Linked DNA regions of Homo sapiens. The protein of the gene in region 2 interacts with the protein of the main gene of each other region in a pairwise test. Each region holds a gene or a part of one and is shown on either strand. Other genes may lie near its edges.

Evidence for each region.
Region 1: the proteins of NAALADL2 (region 2) and GPR25 interact in binary tests that used the Homo sapiens proteins (3 or more experiments, as listed by UniProt).
Region 3: the proteins of NAALADL2 (region 2) and GRM2 interact in binary tests that used the Homo sapiens proteins (3 or more experiments, as listed by UniProt).

Annotation. Positions count from the first base shown.
Region 1 is NC_000001.11:200,868,348-200,874,702, reverse strand, and holds GPR25 (probable G-protein coupled receptor 25), read right to left. Parts: upstream 1,723-6,355; 5' UTR 1,666-1,722; coding exon 580-1,665; 3' UTR 525-579; downstream 1-524. UniProt on the Homo sapiens protein: Orphan receptor.
Region 2 is NC_000003.12:174,855,057-174,862,338, reverse strand, and holds the start of NAALADL2 (inactive N-acetylated-alpha-linked acidic dipeptidase-like protein 2), read right to left. Parts: upstream 3,006-7,282; 5' UTR 2,932-3,005; coding exon 2,889-2,931; exon of another isoform or gene 1-2,888. UniProt on the Homo sapiens protein: May be catalytically inactive.
Region 3 is NC_000003.12:51,710,064-51,717,091, reverse strand, and holds part of GRM2 (metabotropic glutamate receptor 2 isoform a precursor), read right to left. Parts: intron 6,394-7,028; exon of another isoform or gene 5,373-6,393; intron 4,620-5,372; coding exon 3,782-4,619; intron 3,129-3,781; coding exon of another isoform or gene 3,109-3,128; exon of another isoform or gene 3,068-3,108; coding exon of another isoform or gene 2,971-3,067; exon of another isoform or gene 2,031-2,970; coding exon 955-2,030; intron 1-954. UniProt on the Homo sapiens protein: Dimeric G protein-coupled receptor which is activated by the excitatory neurotransmitter L-glutamate. Plays critical roles in modulating synaptic transmission and neuronal excitability.

The sequences.
Region 1 (6,355 bases), on a different chromosome or scaffold from region 2:
ACAACTTCCAGGTGAGTCCTGCCGCTTCACAGGGGGAGAAGTGTCACCAGATTCAATGCAAGGGTTTTGTGAGTGAGAAGGGCAGGGGGTCTGACTTGGAGAAGGTATTTCTCTGAAAGCAACGGCTATTGTGGGAGACGGGAGAAAGCACAGCCAGAAATCAGAATGGCATTTGGGGGTCTGGGTTAGATATTCTGGTGGGTTCTCTTCCCGATGGGACAGAGAAGGAAACCCACTTCCCTTCTGTCTACTTGGTGAATCTGCGGGTCTCCGAGTTGCTGTCTGCTACATCTCATAGCACCTATCTTGGACTGGACAAAATTAGCTCAGGTACCCTGCAGGCTGAGAGGGAACAGCTAGTCACAGGAGCCTGGTTTAGGGGAGTTCAATTGTTCTGAGGTTCCGGGGAAACCGATGGAGGAGGCCTTGGGAGTCCAGGCAGCGCGCGAGGAAATGCGATGCCGGCCCGAGCAGCTTGCTGCCGCCAGAACAGGCGCGTCTGGGGAGCTCAGTCCCCTCCGGGACCTCTGGCCTCCTCTCGATGCTCCGCTGCCGCCCACCTCCAGCGGCCCGGGGCAGCTACCAGGAGGCCGAGGCAGTGTTCGCGGCCTGGGCCCGGCAACGGAACACGGAACTGTCGTCCCTGGAGAGCGAGGAGGCTGAGCTGATCCTTCGCGCCAGGCGGCCGGTGCGCCCGCAGGCCCCGTCCAGCGCCCGGGCTCGGAATGAGCGGTCCAGCAGGAGGTAGATGAGCGGGTTGGCGCAGCTGTTGACGAAGGCCAGGCAGGTGGCAATGGTGAGGCCCCAGCGCAGCGCCAGCAGCAGGGGGCACGGCAGCGGCAGCGCCCCCAGACGCGCCAGGTGGAAGACGGCCCGCAGGGCGCTGAAGGGCAGCCAGGAGCCCACAAACGTGCTCTCGATGGCGAAGATGATGCGCAGCGAGTTCCTCCGGGCCCGACCCACGTGCGGCGGCCGTCGCAGGCGGCGCGAGATGCGGCAGTAGCAGAAGAGGGTGACGACCAGGGGCAGCACGAAGGTCAGCAGCAGCAGCAGCAAGCTGAGGCCCTGGAAGGCGTGGGAGGGCTCCTCGCCGCACTGGCTGTCCTGGCCCCCAGGCAGGGGCTGCAACCCCCGGTAGACCAGGGAGGGCAGGCCGGCCAGCAGCGCCACGGCCCAGACGCCGCAGCACGAGGCCAGCGCGCAGCGCGGGGTGCGCAGTGGCCTCGCCTCGAGCAGCTTCACCACGGCCAGGTAGCGGTCCACGCTCATGCCCGCCAGCAGCAGCGCGCCCGCGCAGCGCGTGCCCGCCAGCGCGAAGCTGCTGAGCTTGCAGAGGCCATCGCCGAACGGCCAGCGGCCGCCTAGCGCCGCCGCCGCGGCCCACAGCGGCAGCGTGAGCACGAAGCCCAGGTCAGCTGCCGCCAGGTGCAGCACGAAGGTATCCACCAGCCGCCGCGGGCCCCGCCGCCCGGCCAGCAGCCACACCACAAAGGCGTTGCCCAGCAGGCCCACGGCGAAGGCCGCCAGGTAGAGCGCGGGGATGTAGACGTAGCCGTAGGGCAGGTCCCCGGCCGGACACAGCTCCAGCTCCTCCAGGCCGTCCAACCCCGAGTAGTCCCAGGGCGCTGACCCCGGGCTGGGGCTCCAGGGCTCTGTGGGGGCCATGGCCTGGCTATGAGGCCTGCGCGGAGTGCAGCCCTGGGCGCAGGCGGCAGCAGCTCTGAGCAGGAGGGGGTTTGCTCTTCACGCCCGGCCCTGCACCTCCCTTCCTGCCACCCAAGCCGGAGGCAAATGGGTGGGCAGGAAAGAGGGGAGGGAGGAGGGGATGGGGTGGGAGGGGCAGGCTTCTGTGAGAGAGATGGTGGCCTCCGATTTGGGGCTGACCCGAGGGGTAAGGGCAGGGACAGGCAAAAGGGGCTTCACATCTAAATCTTGGGAGGAAAAGTCTTCAGGGCTGGGAGACCTGCCCGGCCTCCCAGTAGGAGCGTGGCCCATTCCTCTATTAGTTGCTCAGTTTCTTTGTTCGTGAAATCGGGATACTTGCCCCACTGTCTCAGGGTCGCGTTGCAAGAGGTGGTGGGTGCCCGAGAGCCCTAACCTCTTCTCAGCCTCCACTTCACCCCTTCCCACCTGCACCCACCGGCTGCTGTCTTCTCTGTTTTAGAGGTGAGAAGACAGAGCCCCGGGATTTTATGAGTATGGGGCCTAAGGCACGCCCCACCCCAAATCCACCTGTTCCCTAGGAAAGACTCCACTGCCGGGACACAGCAGATCTGGGTGGGTGGGGGAGCCCGCCCTGGGCAGTCAAGCAGTTGTTAGCGTCCTGAGATGTGGGGCTCATGTCTTCACCCTATGAGTGGCTTCTCTGACCCAGTCAGGTCCTCATGAAGCCACGCGAAAGGGTTTTAAGGCAGCGAGGAAGGGGTGTAGTCAGATCATCCTGCTGGAAAGGGGTGAAACCTGGGATTCACATCTGCCTCTTCCCTGTCTTCTCCTATCCTAAAAAACCTGTCAAGCCAGACACAGATGTAAGCTCAGTTCAAAAGATGACACCTAATGAAACACCAGATTAGTTGTCCTAAATTATGAGTCAGGAGCTTGGAGGCAGCAAGATCCCTTCTGAACTGAGAAACTGAGAGTAAGGGGAGGATTCATAAAGACGAGGGGGAATGAAGTCTGACCCTGAGGAGGCAGTGGGACCTAAGGAGGAGAGGATGGGTGAGGGAAAGCTTGCTCTTTCTCCTGAAGGAGGCATGCAGCCACTTACATCTGAATTCTTCTTAGCAGATATCCCTTCCACAAGATATTGTGGTAGAACTGATGTCACAGTGCCCTCTGAGTCTGTCCCCAGTGTTCCCAGGTATGAGTGGCTGATGTGCCGGGCAACCCGGTGTGGAAAATTTGAGGTGGATTATCAATTTTGTTCGATTAAGACTTGTTAACAATGAACTCCTCCATGAAGCAGGCACTGTTTCAGGCACTGCAAGAGATGCCATTCTTGGCCTTCGCAGTTTGTTGCATAGGCAGGAGAGATGGTTACATAAGCAGAATCTTATGTAATCTTATGCAGGGGCCAAATTGTAGTAAATGTTAAAAACCAAGCCCTCTTAGGGTTTAGTGGAGGGGGAGTGATTATTTTTGACGGGAGGGCTGAATCAGAAAAGGCCTTCGAGGAGATGACACTTGAGATCAGTCCCAGGAAGGAGCTGAAAGTCAAATAAGAGCAGCAGAAAAGAGAAGAAAGGGTCAGACTCGGAGGAGGGAGTAAAGGGAACAAGTATACCAAAATGAGTAGGAATGTGGGCTTTTCAGGGGACAAGCAGTCTGCCAGAGCCCAGGGTAGGAAGGTGGGGGCAGGAGATGAAGCAGGAAAGGATCATGAGGGGATTTGGATTTCAATCTATAGGTCATGGGGAGCCAGGAGGCATCGATCTGTGTTTTGAAAAGATCGCTGGCAGAACTATGGAGAAGGGAGAGGCTCAAGCCAGGGAGACCCCATAGTAGGTTGTAATTATTTGTGTCTGAAATAGATCATGAGCAGTGGGGACAGAAATGGGAGGGTATATTCAAGAGATAATTGTAACATCATAGGTCTCACAAAGAGGAGTCAAAGATAAGCCTGGGGTTTCTCTGCTTAGGGACTATATGGACGCTGTCCCCTTAACTGCCAAGAACACAGAGAGGCACATGTGTGTATGTGTTCAGTTTGATGTTGAAGTGGGGTCATGAAATAATTTATCATCTAACCAGGATGTTTCTGAGAGTGAAAGGGGCACTATCAGAATTAACCTGGGCCGTAAACCAGGACTATTTTGGGCAAACTGGGACATAAGGTCACCCTCGCTCAGGGTCCCTCTGGCACACGGAGATCCCCAGGAAGGATTTGGAAAATGGTCTTAGAGGCCGGGCGCAGTGGCTCACATCTAATCCCAGCACTTTGGGAGGCCGAGGTGGGTAGATCACTTCAAGTCAGGAGCTCGAGACCAGCCTGGCCAACATGGTGAAACCCTGTCTCTACTAAAAATGCAAAAATTAGCCGGGCACGGTACGCGCAAGTCCCAGCTACTCAGGAGGCTGAGGTGGGAGAATCGCTTGAACCCAGGAGCAAAGGTTGCAGTGAGCTGAGATCAAGCCACTGCACTCCAGCCTGGGTGAAAGAGCGAGACTCCATCTCAAAAAGAAAATGGTCCTAGAGCTCACAGAGGGTTGGGTATGCAGTGTTTAGGCTGCTCCTGTCAAGAATTTCTCCCACACCAATTACAAGATGGGCAGGGAAGAGAAGAGCCTAGGGAATGAATGGTCTGGACCTTCCCTTCACTGGCTTTTCAGCCTCCGGGCTTGGTTTTCCCCTGAAGACCCACCCCAGAGCCGCTTTTCTAATGTCTGAGCATGTGGTTGCTGGTGAGCGGTGCCCACATCCGGGGTGGAGTAGGGGGCTGCAGCCTCCTCCCCTAGAAGGCTAGCAGGGGCAGTGCTTGCCTGCCAGAGCCCAGAGACCATCAGAGACAGACCCAGTGTTGCTGGACTTCACCCCTTCAGGCACACCTCAGTCTGCGGGCTCAGAGAGTGTGAGTGATCCTGAAAGCTAGAGATGAACAGCAGAGAAGCCGCCGGGTGAAAACAAAGAATGGGGCAAGCAGACCAAGAGGGGAATATAGGAAGGGGGTTGAGGGGAAGTAGAAGTAGGTTATTTTAAAAATCACAGAGCTACTTGCTTCCTGGGCCATCATCTCATACCCAAGGGAAGTCTGTGGCCCAGAGCATATGCTGAATTTTCTCTGCTGAGGCCTGGGTGCTGTCCATGGGCCTTACTGAACTTGTCTGGATGAGAAGAAACAGCAAAGGTCAGAGCCAGGGACACTGCCTTAGGCCCGGTCTCCTGGGGTGCCCAGCCCGGTTTCAGTGACCAAGGCCAACTTCACAAGACTGCTCTTTCACCCTTCAGGAGGACTCCCCACAGGATTACACACAAGTCAACTAATAGAAACACTCACCCTTACAGGCTGGGAATCCTGGCCATGCTCTCTAACAGGTGTGGACAAAGCAGAAGAAGTCTTCCCTCTTCCTCCATCCCACCCCTGGGAGCCTTCTCTAACCTCCATCCCTAAGAGGACTTCCTCTCTCTGCACTGCTGGAGCCAGGGCAACTGTTACGTGGCTCCGTCTTGCCTTGCCCATGGGATTATGAACTTCTCAGGGCGAGGGGGAGCTTCTTTCTACTCATCAGGGTGATTAGCACAAGCCTGAAAACAGAGGAGATACTTTAAATAAATATCCAATGCTTCGGGCTAAATTGTTTTCGAGAGTAGGTTTATTTCTGCCCCTTTACAGGTTATATTTAAGTTCTTATAACTTATTTTTTCTAATTTTAATTTTTCTGTACAAAGAATCTTAACATTTTAAGTAAATTGTATTTGCCTTTTTATGTTTAATCATAAAAGCCATCTAATACATTACAGAATAAAGAAGTAGTCGTCATCTTGGACCTGCTACCCCTACACAACCAAACTTAGCCAGTGAAGGACATTTTCAAAAGTATTTATTTGTAATCTCATTATTTTTAGATTTTCTATTTTTAAATATTCCATTTCAGATATTCTTCACATTTTTTACACAGGTGTTTCAAAGTCGTATCTGTAATTAGAGTGTACACAGTATTCTCAATTAATATCATATAAATCCACATGAGTCTATGTTGCTTAATTTTCTAAACCCTTAAATATGGATATTTAGGATGTTTCTAGTATTTTTAACTGTTATAGAAATTTGTAATGAATAATTGCACTTATGACTTTTTTATATTGTTTTTATAACATAAATGCTCTTGTATAAGTACATATAAATATGTATTTATATACATATAAATATGTACAAATATAACATATTTATATAAATATGTATAAATATAACATTTATATAAATATGTTGTAAAACACGTTATAAATACAAATTTTGTAACAAAGGCAATGAAAATTTTTATTGCTTGATACAAATGTTTACAGTGATTAGCAGTTTAGAATGTCACTGGCATTGTATGAGAGTATAAGGTTCAACACAGTCTTCTTAGAGATGTTCATCGGTAACATATATTTTCCATTGTAATAGGCAGTGAGGTAAAATGGTACCTCATTTCAATTTGCACTTGTTTATAAATAAGATGGAAAATCTATTTATTTCCTAAGTGAACCATTCTAATCATGTCCTTCACATATTTATTATAATCTATGTATTTCTTATTAATTTGTACAAACTATATATTTAGGATGAGTCATGATTTATTCCACTTGATTCAAATATTTTTCCAAATTCTTTTCTTAGCTATTATTTATTTTAGTTTGACATTTTCATATAGTCAA
Region 2 (7,282 bases):
CACCCTCCCATCTCCCAGCCATGTCCCTCCCTCTACTCCTGTTACAGACTGATGGAGTGATAGAGTGCCACTCAGTGGTGCAGGTGAGTTTGCAGGCATTATGCAAGAAAAATGATCCTTCCCTTCACAAATAACAATGCTTAGAAAGCACTTACCCCTATTCCTTATGCCATATTATTTGTACAATTTTATTCATATTTGCAACGTTTAGAAAAAAATTCTAGCATTCTCTCCTTACCTAGATAATTTATTTTATGAATCCTGAGGACATTATGAACCTTCATGTATGATAGCTTTACACAATTCTCCGCTGGGGTTACCTTGTCATTGGGACTAAAAGAGGAGATTCCTTTTTATGTTTGAAAAGCTAATTAAAATCTGTTCACACAGCTCAAGATAACCTTGGAATAACTTCACTTTTATTCAGGAAAAAAAAAAAATGGGTTCTCAATACTACCAGAAACACTAAATGTTAATGGCATATGGGCTCCACTAACCAGGGCACATGCAACTAACCCCCTGAGAGTATAATTGGGTCAGAGATGTACAGAAAAAGCACTGTGATGAATAATCATTGATAATATCTATGGCTAGCCTTTCAAATTGTAACTAGAGATCATTCAGTGAATCTAGAAAATCTAGATACATGGCCTTAGAAAATCATTATTCAAAGCACTTGATGGAGTTCCAATGATAATCTACATAATATATTATCCTCATAGTCAAAACACGTAAGTCATCCACATGTTTAATATACAAAACATATTATTTTAACATAGTTATTTCCACTAAAGAACATCCGTTTGTAAGTGGAGCTGACAATGAGTATTATTTGAAAGAACCTCAGAATTTTTTATAAATGTCATTAAGTCAAAGGTGAAATTGAACACTAGAAAATAACTTTTCATTCACTTTGGTCATTTTGAAACTCAATTTCAGATTTTGGACAGGGTATCACAGACAACAGAAAAATGTTAAGGCATTCCATTGCCTTTATAATGTAAAGAAATCCAGAAACGAAACCAACAACTGAACTACCATCGGTTCTTTTTAACCCTCACTTGATTAATAGGTGCTCTTAAGAATCTTGATGCAAATATAACTGGTAGGGAAGCACTTCAATACTCCAAGAAGATAGATCTGAAATATTTACAGACCTACCAAGGATACATTTAAACATGAATAAGATCAGAAGAGAATAAATATTTTATTGAAAAGTTTTCAGAGTATACAAACAAAAACTCCCTAGTATATAACTGATTTCACAAGTTTTACCCAACTACAAAAGGCTTAAAGATTAGGCACACTGTTCTTGAACTTAAAGCACACCATTCAAATTATTTACTATATCACTTGTGTTGAATTTTGTGCATGGTTTTCTGATTAATAATTCTGAAAATAATTGTAGTTTTATACATATATATGGATAGGGGAAAGGGAAGGCTATCCTTACACAGTGAAACATATGTATTACCAGAAACATAATATACATAAAAAGCACCAGAGAAAAAGAAAGAAACAACAACAAAATGTATACACAATCTGGGATTCAATTAAAAAAATATTACCCATGATCCTAACACAAAGAGGGATAATGAGTGAAATGGAAAGAGGCCTGGTTACTCCTTAGTTTATTTTGATCGCTGAATACAGACAGGTGATGCACCCACACAGCCTAGAATAGGCTATTTAGGTGGTTGCCAAACAGTAATAAACATTTAATGTAAAATCATTATCATATGCACAATTGGAACAAACTAGAGGCTTCCCATATACTTTCCAATGAAAAATATTAGAGACAAATAAGGAATATGTTATAATCTTGTACATAATACCATTTGTCCATAAGACACATAGAAATAAATGATTCTCATTATGCTAAATGAGCCTTTTACCTTACTGTTTTTCTTCAATAGAATTTATTACATGACTTTTGAAATTAATCTTTTAAATTAAAAATGCTTTATAGTAGCATTTTACACAGTATTTCAAGAAAGATTTTTAGGAAATATACAGAGATAAAAAAAGATACGGGGATTCTTAAGCAGGCTATGTAGAGAAAAGATTAAAGAAATGAAAGAAAAATATAATTTAACTATAAAATAGGTGATATATTTTTAGGATCATGCAGATCTATGTGATCTCATGGTATTCTAGAAGTCTATAACAAATATTGATTAGGCCCAATATCTACTTTCTTTTTCTTCTTTAAGAAATAACTTTTGTTACCCAAAAATGTGAAATGTGAGCGACCTTAAATTTGTTTCGGTGAACAAGCCTCTAACCAGAGATGCCTAGTCAAGCCAATGTCAACAAAGCCAGTCCTTTCAAAGGACAAAGGTATCTGATTAAGCAACACCTGTGAAATAAATCACAGCCTCCTAACTGATAGGCTCGCCCATGTTCCCCTGTTTTCTACCTTTTAAAAAGTGGTTATATTAATTACAGGGAAACTGAGCTGGTAAACTCCAGAGATGGCAAAACTTAATTACCAATAAACACTCCACAGGTAGAGACAAAAATCAAGGTTCTGTTAATGTTGGAAAAGGTCCAACATGAAAATGCACTGGAAGTTGGTTATACCATTTCTCCAACATTATACTGGGGATTAAGGATAAAGCTTTCCATACCCTCCACGGGTCCCCCAAATTTGTGATTCTGTGTTGCCTGAGTCTTTGTAAACAACTGAGAAAACATGCTTCCTCTGAATCAACAATCTCCACCTCTTTTCTCGCTCGCAGAAAACACCTTAAAAACAGGGCCAGGGCACCTGAACATGCATGCAGGGATGCGTGTGTGCATACACAGAAACACACAGACTTTGTAATCAACACTGCTTAAGTTTCTGATTGTGAAAAGTGAAAAGTTCATAGGCTGTTGGTACTTACCTTGCAAAGACGTGTTAGGTAAACTTGCTTCATTCTCTCCCATTTTATTATTTCTTTTTAAAGAGGGCCAAGCAGTTTCAAGTTGTGTCACTTACCCTGCAAGCTTTGTGACCTTCTGACTTTCTACTGTAGTATTGTAACAGTATACTACCTGCTTTCTTCTGTGAATAATTACCATTCTGCTTCCTGAGTTACCTGGGCTTGCAGGACCTGTTTTACTATGAAGTGAGATCATATCTTTTGATCCACTGTATGGCTATTAAAGTGTACTTCACAAAACATTGCTTTGTTTCAGTTTTGATATAAACTTTTAATTCTCTACTTTCACTTTAGTCCAGAAACATATTTATATTTTCCCCTAAAAGAGCATTGATATTACCAGTACACCAAGCTTCACAGAGTTTGGTTTCTTTGTTTTTGAGTGTTTCTAATCTACTTTTCCTACAGAAATCAAATTTAAAGTGTATTACACGACATTTATTTTTTAAACCATAGGGAAATAAGGAACAGCTCAGAGTCAGTTTTGTGCAGCAGTGTGAAGACAAGTTTTGGATTATCTCTAATACTTGCTGTGTGACTGTAAGCAAAGAATATAACTTCTTTGAGACTCAGTTTCCTAAACTATAAAATAGAATAATATCTAGTATGTATGAAGTATGTATGATTAGTACGAAGATTGAAAACACTAATGTATGGCTGTGCTAAACACTGTGAATAATGGACAATAAACAAAAAACAATTTCTAATTTTCCTCTTCCTTTTCCTTCTTCTTCCTTCTCTCCCTCTTGTTCTTCTGATGAGTGGAATGAATGCTGAACTGCAGCATTGATGTCCCAGATCATGTACTGACATCAGTTATGCAACTTATTAACTGAGAGACCTGAAAAAAACTGTTCAACCTAATCCTGAGTTGCCTCAAGGTCCTCATTTGTAAAAGGAGAGTCATGATATTTGCATTGCCTTTTGAATAGAAGCATGGTGAATATTAACTTAGATTAACTGTTGTGACTCAACAAAAATAATTCCCAGCAAACAAGAGCAACAAATTGGAGACGTATCTTTAAATATTCATTTGTATGTGAGAAAGCAAAGATATCACAGAATTAAGGCAATTTATTTAAGCTTTGTCCCCCATAAGGCACCTAGAATAAAAAACAATCTCCACTTTCTTCCCTCTAGAAATCCTTAACTTTGGCTGTAGTTAGACTAGTAAATAAATGAATATAAATATATATTCATATTCATATATATTAATATTTTACAAATTATATATTATATATTTAATATTGTAATAATTACATATTATTATATTCAAATATATAATATATAAAAACATTTTTATTAGTCTGCAGCTAATATATATATATAGGCTGTAGTTACACACATATATATGTATATGAAGCTCAAGCTCCTTTCTTTATAATCCATTGCTTTTTAATTTGAAAAAATCTATATATTATGTGTGCTAGCTTACTAATGTAAAAATTGACTATATAAGTTGTGTAAAGTACAGAAATGTCAAACAACAGTTTTTCTCAAAAGTATTAGAAATAAAGGCAAACATGACATTAAAAATTTCTGATTGCAATTGGGAGTTGTCTCTTTCATTTATTACCTCTCTAGGTCTCAGTTTCTTCTATGAGGGAGCTGGACCATTGAAAACCCATTCTCTCTTTATAATGCCAGGAGCCTCTGATTTAAAATCTGGGTTGTGGTTTGCTCCAGAATAGAATAACCCTTTGCCTATAGCAATTGCATACTGTAATATATATATATACACACCATGCTACATACTTTACCAACAGTAACTTGAAATTGAATGTTTGCCAATAAAACACTGTAATCATCACATTCTTACTTCACTTTAAAAGGACCAACACACATATCAATCCTCACTCATTATGACAAACTTGGAAATATATTTACAGACCTGCCCCAGGCACTGAAATTAGTCAATAACAGTTATAAAGCACCCATTATCTATGAGCTGAATTATAGCATGTGGTAAATTACGATGAAAGTGGAATAGAGAAGTCCTATTCTTAAACGATAACAAAAAATCCATACAAATATAAACACCAGAAAGGTCTTAAGTTCGTAAGTTCACAGAAAGTAACATAAATACTGATTGAGTAGAAAAGAATCAGTTGCAATACTAATAAAGTGCCATGTGCACACATATTTTCTTTCTCCTTCTGGGTCTTTGTGCATGCCTGGAAAATTTCTTCCAGGACGTTTTTTAACATACCTGGTGAGTTTTGCACATGCCTAAAAAACTTCTTCACCTCCCTTTTGCTGAATTCATATGCAGAAATTCTTGTTGAATTCAGTCTGAGTTCAGGTCCCTTCCTTGTGCTCCCAGACACCCCTTAACAATTCTAAACTTTTCATTTCACCATGGCTCTTGTCACATTATATTATAGGTACAGTAGGCCCCCTTAACCTCAGGAGAATACATTCCAAGACCCTTAGTGAATGCTTGAACCACATATAGTACCAAACCCAAATGACATCAATCGGAACACATTTGTGTTCATATCTTCCACCCACAAATTTAATGCCTTTTCCATCTTAACTAAGCAATTATCACACACCGTGGCTGTAACTTTTGCAGTCTGAGGTGTGACAGCTTAAACTAGCACAGATTTCTCTTTCCTTCTTCACAATTTTACAAATAGAAGGTATGTTCTTACAGTAGATCTTGGAAACCTCAATAAAATTTTCTTTCCTAATTAACTCAAAACTTTCATCTTTTCAATTAAAGAAATCACTTTACAGCTTTTCTCTGGCATATCTGAATTGCCAGCCTCATAACTTTTGCATTTTGGGACCATTATTAAGTAACATAAGAGTTGAAAACATGCACCAAATTACCATGAAAGTCCTTCTGATAACTGAGATGGATCCTAAGTGGCTAACAGGCACCTACAGTGTGAATAAACTGGACATACGGATGATTCACATCCTGGGCAGGACAGAATGAGATCTCATCAAGTCACTCAGAATGATGCACAATTTTACACTTATTGATTGTTTCTAAAATTTTCCATTCAATATTTTTGGACCACGATGATCATTGATAACAAATTGTGGAAAGGAAAAGTGTGGATTCAGGAAGACTACTGTACTTCTTAATTATTTCTCAGACTGGGCACAGGAGCTCACGACTGTAATCCCAGCACTTTGGGAGGCTGAGGCAGAAGGATCGCTTAAGCCCAAGAGTTCAAGACCACCCTGGTCAACATAGCATAATCCTGTGTGAACAAACAATACAAAAATTATCTGGGCATGATGGTGTGTGCCTGTAGTACACCTACTCAAGAGACTGAGATGAGAGGATTGCTTGAGTCCAGAAGTTTGAGGCTGCAGTAAGCTATGATCATACCACTGGACTCCAGCCTGAGTGACAGACTGAGAACCTGTCTCTCTCTCTTACTTCTCTCTCTCATATATATATATATATATATATACACACACACACACACATACACATATATTCATATCTATGTGTATATATATTCATATCTATGTGTATATATATTCATATCTATGTGTATATATATTCATATGTATGTATATATACATATATACACATATATACATATCTTTCATATATATGAGACATATACATGTGTGTGTGTGTGTGTGTGTGTGTGTGTGTGTGTGTGTGTGTGTATTTCTCTCCTGACACTCTGTTATGCCAAAGACACTTTAAAAGTAGTCATCAAGTTCCTGGCACCTAGCCCAGTTCCTAGCACACATTGAGCCTGCAATGAATTTTGTGAAAATGAATAAAATTACCATCATCAGAAAGGGTGAATAAAAGAGTCTCAAAGAAAACAAAGACATAGATTAGCAAAGAAGATGATAGAAAATTTTCAGTTGGGAAAAGTAACAAATTAAAGCTTAAAAGCGAAAAGTGATGAGGGAAAGTAGGGAGTTTTAACTGCAAGAGCAAAACATTAAGAGTTAGAAGGATATAAGAAATGATGGTAATTATGAGAATTTCCAAAATAAAAGTCAAAACCAGGATAAGAAATGAAAGAGAATAAGAAGTTAATACACCATAGTCATGCACTGAATAATGATGTTTCAATCAATGGTGGACTGAATAAACACAGGTGGTCTCAAAAGATTATAACGAAGCCAAAATTTTCCTATCGCCTAGGGATGTCATGGCTGTCATAATGTCATAGCTGTCATAACATCATAGCTGTCAAAATGTCTTGCATAAGACATTACTCACATGTTTTGTGTTGATGCTGATATAAAAATAGCTACTATGCTGCCACTCATGTAAAAGTATAGCATAGGCCGGGCACAGTGACTCACGCCTGTAATCCTAGCACTTTGGGAGGCCAAGGCGGGCGGATCACCTGAGGTCAGGAGTTCGA
Region 3 (7,028 bases), about 120 Mb from region 2:
AGGTGAGTCCTTAGCTGCCTGTGATTGGCATGCAAATGCAAATCATATGCAAATGCAGGCTGAGTCAGAGCAGAATCCCTCCCCAGCCCTGGCCTCTACCACCCAAGCAGGTGGCCCAGCAGGTGCAAGCAGAGCAGCCAAGCCCAGCGGTCCCTGGCCCCCAGCACTGTGCCACCACACCTCTGTCCTGGGGAAGGGGCCTTTGCCGGGGCTTTCGCCTCAATTTTTCTGCAGTTCAGACCCTGCTCTGCACTCCCAAGCTGAGTGACCTTGGGCAAGGGATTGAACCTCCCTGAGTCTCTGTTTCTTCATCTGTAAAACGGGAGAGCCATGGAGCTTACTCAAGTTATGAAGATTAACCAAGATAATCTTCTTACTCAGAACATAGCTCATCTGTCACCTCCTCAGAGAGGGCTTCCCTGACCACCCTATCTGAAGCAGCCATTGCCCCTTGGAGCTGGGGAGACCCATTGAGACACAGTGCCAGTTGGAACCAAATTTGCTCAGAAGCCACCAACTGGGGAACAATTTTCACCTGCTTTAGCTTTTCTCAACTCTATACCCTGGATCTCCTCCCCTACCCACCTTGCTTCATCTTTCCTGCCTTCCCTGGCTTCATCTCTCAACCCCTTCTGCAGATGACCCCTCAGTGGAGCAGGGCAGAACCCTGTCCATTTGAACATATTTCTGCACCCCCATCACCTTCCAGGATAGGGGATGACATTCAAGTCCTGAAATCTCAGCTCTCTCTAACTCGAGTTCCCCACCTCCCTGGCCATTTCCCTAGGTCCTATTCAGCCCTCCCACCTTCCCCTTGGGATCCACACAAGCTGTGGTCCCCTGAGTGGGCATTATCCTCTTGGAACCCCAGAGCTACCAGTAGATTAAATAAGATACCAGGAAACAGAGGGTCTGGTGTCCCATCTCCCCCGACCTCTGTGGCAGGTAGCTCACCCGGTAGTCACTGGAGGTGACATAGAAGATGGGCAGGAATGCCAGCCAGATGATGCAGGTGGTGTACATGGTGAAGCCAATGAACTTGGCCTCGTTGAAGTTTTCGGGGCACTTGCGAGTCTTGAAGGCATAAAGCGTGCAGAGCGCGATGAGGAGCACATTGTAGGCCAGCGAGCCCAACATACTTGCATCGCGGTGGTTGCAGCGCAGTGTCACCACCTCCCGCCGTTCGGGGGCTGTCTCCTTGCCTGTGCCCGGTGCCTCCACCACCAGCCAGGCGACCACGATGAGCAGCTGGCCCGAGATAAGTGCCAGGCAGATGGCCACCTGTGAGGCAGGACTGATGAAGCGTGGCCGCTGGGCACCCTCCCGGGCCCCACCGAAGATGCGTGCAATGCGGTTGGTCTTGGTGAGCAGGGCTGAGTAGCAGACAGAGAAGGCAGTGCCCAAACCAAGACGCCGTAAGGTACACACTGCCGTGGATGGCTTGGCAATGAAGATGAAGGTCATGCAGTAGCAGAGGAAGACACCACCCAGCAGGATGTAGCAGAGCTCCCGACCTGAGGCCTTGACCACTGGTGTGGCATTGTGCCGCACAAAGACACCCAGCACAAAGAGGGTGGCCAGGGCACCGAGGCAGGCGATGGTGACAGGTCCCACAGCCCAGGCATCGCCCCAGCGGATGTACTCCTGGGGCAGTTCGAAGCAGCCAGTCAGGCTGGCATTGGGCCAGTAGCCCAGGCCACAATCAGCGCAAGTGAATTCGTCCAATCGGTACTCATAGGGCTGGCACGGAATGCAGAGCCAGCAGCAGACTTCGCCCGGCTGCACACTCTTCACCTCATTCTGGAGGCAGGGCTCACTGCAGCGAGAGGCGGGCAGGGGGCCGGCTGAGGGTGAGGCCCATGGGATGAGGCTGGTGTCCAGAGTCAAGCCTTCTGCCCAGTAGCCCACCTTCTGGTAGCGATAGCGCCCACTGCCTGCACGCAGATAGGTGAAGATGTTGTAGCGGCCAATACCATCACCAAAGCGGTCAAAGCGGACCTCATTGTGGGTGTCAGCTGGGCGAAAGGGGGCTAGGATGGGGGAGGGAAGGAAGAGAAGGTTGGACTAGTGTGTTACCCTGATGTGACCTCAACATTCACCCTAACATGGAACCCAAATGCCAGAGCTAAGACCACCATTAGCCCTTCCAATCCTTAACCCAATACTAAATCCTGCCTTGACCCCAATCATTTTTCTAAATGAGAGATGACAACAAAGTCTTACTCCTAAACTCCAACATCAAACCCCAACCCTAAATGCCAAATGTAATCCCAGCCTTAAAGCCCAGACATCTCCAAAAACCTAATGCCCACATCAATCCCCAACCATGACTCCCCAAATTCAACTTTAGTACTATCCAACACTTTCCAACCCAGGCTCCAAATCCCAACTTCATCGAAACATACACTACAGCCCTCTCCCCAAACTCAATGCTAAGGCTAAACCCAGTCTCAGCTCCAATCCTGTCCCCACTAATCCTAACAACAACCCCAGCTCCAGCACCCCTAGTCCTAACAGTCATCCTGGTGCAAACTGAATCCCAACCTCACTGGTCACCTGCAACCACTGCCATTCACCAGAATGTGGTCAGTGGCTGGAAAATCACTTCCTCTCTCCACCCCCACTTCATCCCCTGTAAACCTCACATCTCCCAGCCAGGCTCTAGCCAGGATTTACAGCCATCCCTGGCCCCAGTGAGAAATCAGGGTTCAAGAAAGCAGAAGACATGCTTAAGGCCCCATGAGTGAATAGTGCAGCCTAGATTCAAACCCAGGTCCCCTCAAGCACCTACTCTTTCTACTCAGCCTAAAAGTTCTCAAAATCCAACTCTAGCCCTACCATAAATTCCACCCAAGCCAAACATGCTGAATTTAGCCTTGCTCTAACATCAACCAAATCGGACCCCAGATTCCAACCCTAACCCCTACACTGATTGTAGCTAACTCTGAATGTCAGTTCTATTGGAAGTACTCTTCATCTTAACCCTGGGCCAGGGCTTCCAAGCTTTGTCTCCCACTGTTCCCACGGTGATTCTTCCTGAAGCATAGTGATGATCTGCAGCAGTCATTTCTCTTAAAGCTGGCACTCTTATTAAAATAACTTTTGATTTCAGGAGACTTTCAGGTCACCTTGAGTGGAAAATCAAGATTAGGAATAGAAATTTTCCCTGAAGCTAGGAGCAGTGCCACATGCCTGTCATCCTAGCTACTCTGGAGACTGAGGCAGAAGGATCGCTTGAGCCCAGGAGTTGGAGGCTGTATTGTGCCTGTGAATAACCACTGCACTCCAGCCTACAAAATATAGTGAGACCCCATCTAAGAAAAGAAAGAAAGAAAGAAAGAAAGAAAAAAGAAAGAAAAGAAAAAAGAAAGACAGAAAGACATTTTCCGTGAATATAGAGCGTCATCCTGATGCTCACCCTCAAGCCAGACTGATTCTAACTCTTGGTGCTGCCTGAGAATGGGCTTGAGGTCTCCTGGTCTCCACCTTTGGCAAGATAAGGAGACAGAAGACAGTGGGCAAGGCCCAAGGAGGAGCCAGAGACCCTCAAAATGGCGGGACCAGGCCAGAGGTCTACTCTCTGGAAGAAAGTGGAACCTCAGCCGTAGCTTCAGTTGGAGTCCTCTCTGCCTAGCATCCTTGCCCTTGCTCTGACGCCACCCCAGGTGAGTCCTTTACTTTCACTCTACTGTTTCCTTAGCAAAGGAATGGAAGCTGAAGTTCTGCTTCCCCTCATCCTCTGACAGCCAGCAGGCCAATGGACACTGGCCAACACCATTACCATCAAACTTGACGTTGAGCACAAAGTCCTTGTAGAGGCGGCGCCCGTTAACTGGCCGCATCGCGTCACAGAGCCGGGTGGTGTTGGGGCAGAGGGCACGGTGCATGTTGTGGAGCGCATGGGCCATGGCGTACACTGCATTGACCACAAACATGATCTTGGACTCCTGCTCAAAGGGCACAGCCCGGAGAGAGTGGGCTGCGCAGTCTCGCTGCCGGAAGCTGCAGCGGAACCTCTGCTCCCAGAATTCACGGAACCAGGGGTTCCGGCTGTTGTTCCAAGGGTCCAGGCTCTGGAAGTAGGAGGCAAAGTCACTGATGGGGTAGGAGGCCAGCTCGATGGTGATAGCACCCTCAGCAGCCCCCTCACTGCCTGCCACCACACTCTCCAGGGCCCCCCAACCATCACTGGCCACCCAGGTGAAGCTGGCATTGAGGCGCTGGCTGGCAGCAAGCAGCTCCCGGGCATCCTCAGAACGGGTGAACAGGACAGCCACGCGGGCACTGGGCTTCTGCAGCAGGGCTCGCACCACACCCTCAAAGGCCGCGCGGCTCATGGCACGGCCCACTTTCTCCGAGGTGGCCACACAGATGTTGCGGGCACGAGCCTCTAGCTCAAAGGCCTCAATGCCTGTCTCGCCATAGTCGCCCTCAGACGCCACAGTGGACACATAGGTCCAGTTGAAGAAGCGGAGAATCTCAGCCATGGCCTTGGCTTGGAAGAAGTCAGGAGGCACTGTGCGGGCAAAGTAGTCATAGCGGGACTTGTCACTCAGCTTGGCACTGGTAGAGGCGTAGCTAATCTGTGGGATCTGAAATAGCCTCAAGAGGTTGGCCACCTGGGGGAGGAGTAGAGAAGGCAAAGATCAGCGGTCAGATCAAACACTAGAGACAGGTGCATCCCCCACAGCTAGCAGGTCTTGGTGTCAAGTGTCCACAAGGTCAGGCCTAAAGGCTCCCTCTCTAAAGCCCTGCATCCTGACTTGACAGTCTTCCCTCTGGGCTAGGGAGTTTTTTTATCTCTTTCCAAGGGCTGAGAGAGAGAAGACCCAGGGTGGAGACACCAGGGTCATGAGCCACACCTGATCCCCTCTGCCATCCCCTTTTAGACACATGGCAGGGGGGCCAAGGAAGGCCTGGGTGGAGGGAGGTTGGCACCTGGCTACACTGGGGCAGAGGGAGGCATGAGATGGCATCTGGCTACTCAGGGCTCTTCGGCTCTCTACTTATTTGAGGGTAGGTGGCCCTTCCCCTGAATCAATCTGATGGAATGATACAGAAAGAAGGAAAAGTTTCCCCTAGGAAGAAAGACACAGATCCCAGGGTCCGGTGGCCCTAATAGGCCAAGGCTTGGTCTCCATTGAATGCCTGAGTCTTAAACGTTCTACCACTGGCTGCCTGGCACCCCATCTCCCACCCTCAGGTCCCACAGGAGTGGGATCCGGCCAAGGGCCAGGTAGAGGGTGGGTAGGTGAAAGCAGAGCATGGCCCAGATTCTACAGCAGAGGGGTGAGTCTTGTGTTGCAACTGGATACAGGCTATGGCTCTGACAGTCTAGGGCTCAATGTCTCCTCCCCTCCCACACATTTTACCTTTGGGCCCCTGGAGTTGGCAAATCTCCCTGAGCCTCAGTTTCACATTCCTGCCCTACAAGGCTGCTGAGAGGATAAAAACGATAATGCATGGGAGGCCACAGTGCCTGGCAAAGGGAAGATGATAGGGACATGGGCAAGAGAGAAGGAGCAGCCATGAGGGGGAATATTAACAGGCAGGTGCAGCCTACGGATGACAGGCTAGCCTCGTGTTGATCAGGACGAGGGAGAAGCAGACCACTGCTGAGGCGTGGGCCCTGATCCAGGAGGCAGGCAGCTTGGGATGGCAAGGAGGTAACTGGACTTCTGGAGATAAATGCATGAGCCCTAAGGAGGACTGTGGAGAAAACTTCAGCAGAGGCCCTGGAAGACAGCAGCAGGTAGGAGGCCGCCCACTCATCCCTGCCCCAACCCGGGGCTGCAGAAATAGATGCTAGCACAGCCACATCTTCCCAGGCTGCTGCCTAGCCACCTCCAGTGACTGGGACTAGCAGGACAGCTGCCTAGCCACCTCCAGTGACTGAGACTAGCATGACAGCTGCCTAGCCACCTCCAGTGTCTGGGATTAGCAGGACAGATAATCCACTCCCAGCAGTGGATGGAGTGGCCAGGCCTCCCCGACTTCAGGCCGGTAGCTGACTCCAGGGTTCTCTGATTTCTGCTTCTGCTCCATTTCTCCTGAACAACTGTTCTAGGACAGGGGGCCTGGCCCTCTCCATCTCGGCAATGCCCTCAGCCACTCTCCGAAAGGAAGCTGAGGCCAAGCCAAGGCCTACCTTATGTCCCCCAGCCCTGATTCTAGCTCCAGCCGCATCTTCCAGCAGCCTGTGCTGGGCACTTGGCAAGCGGGAATCTGGGTGAGAGGTAGGACCCAGTCAGAGATGGGAGGATCGCAGCTGGGCACAGCCCTGGGAGCAGCAGAGGGGTGTCAGCAGGGCCAGCAGCCTCTGCTGAAGCTGAGCCACAGAGCACCCTCTGCTGGTCCCTGTGGGAGAGTAGGAGGCTGAGGGCAGGGGAGCTGCCTCCCCACCCTTCCCACCCCCTCAAATCCTGTGCCCCCTGAAGACTCTCTGGTGCCCTCCCCCGACACATATTCTGTTTATCTTCCTTCTGACTCCCCTACCCTGATTCTCTCCTCTGGCCACTCCTGGCTTCTATCTGGCCACCCCTCTCCAATCCAGGCAGAGATGATCTGACAAGTCAGGAGCCCCTTGGCCGAGAGCCGATTTCACAGTTCCCCTCCACCACTGCCTTGAATGTGGCCCACCTCTCTCTGAGCCTTCGTTTCCTCATCTATAAAATGGGTTAAAAATAATAGCAGCTAATATCAACGGTGCCCTTATGACTTGCCGGGCCCCTGATACATACTATGCATCTATCAACTCATTAAATTTCCATGGCAAACCTCAAAGTAGAAAGTGTTGTGGGCCGGGCACAGTGGCTCATGCCTATAATCCCAGCACTTTGGGAGGCCGAGGCGGGTGGATCACCTGAAGTCGGGAGTTTGAGACCAGCCTGACCAACGTGGTGAGGTCAGGCTCGTCTCTACTAAAAATACAAAAATTAGCCGGGCATGGTGGCAGGCGCCTGTAATCCCAGCTACTTGGGAGGCTGAGGCAGGAGAATCACTTAAACCCGGGAGGCAGAGATTGCAGT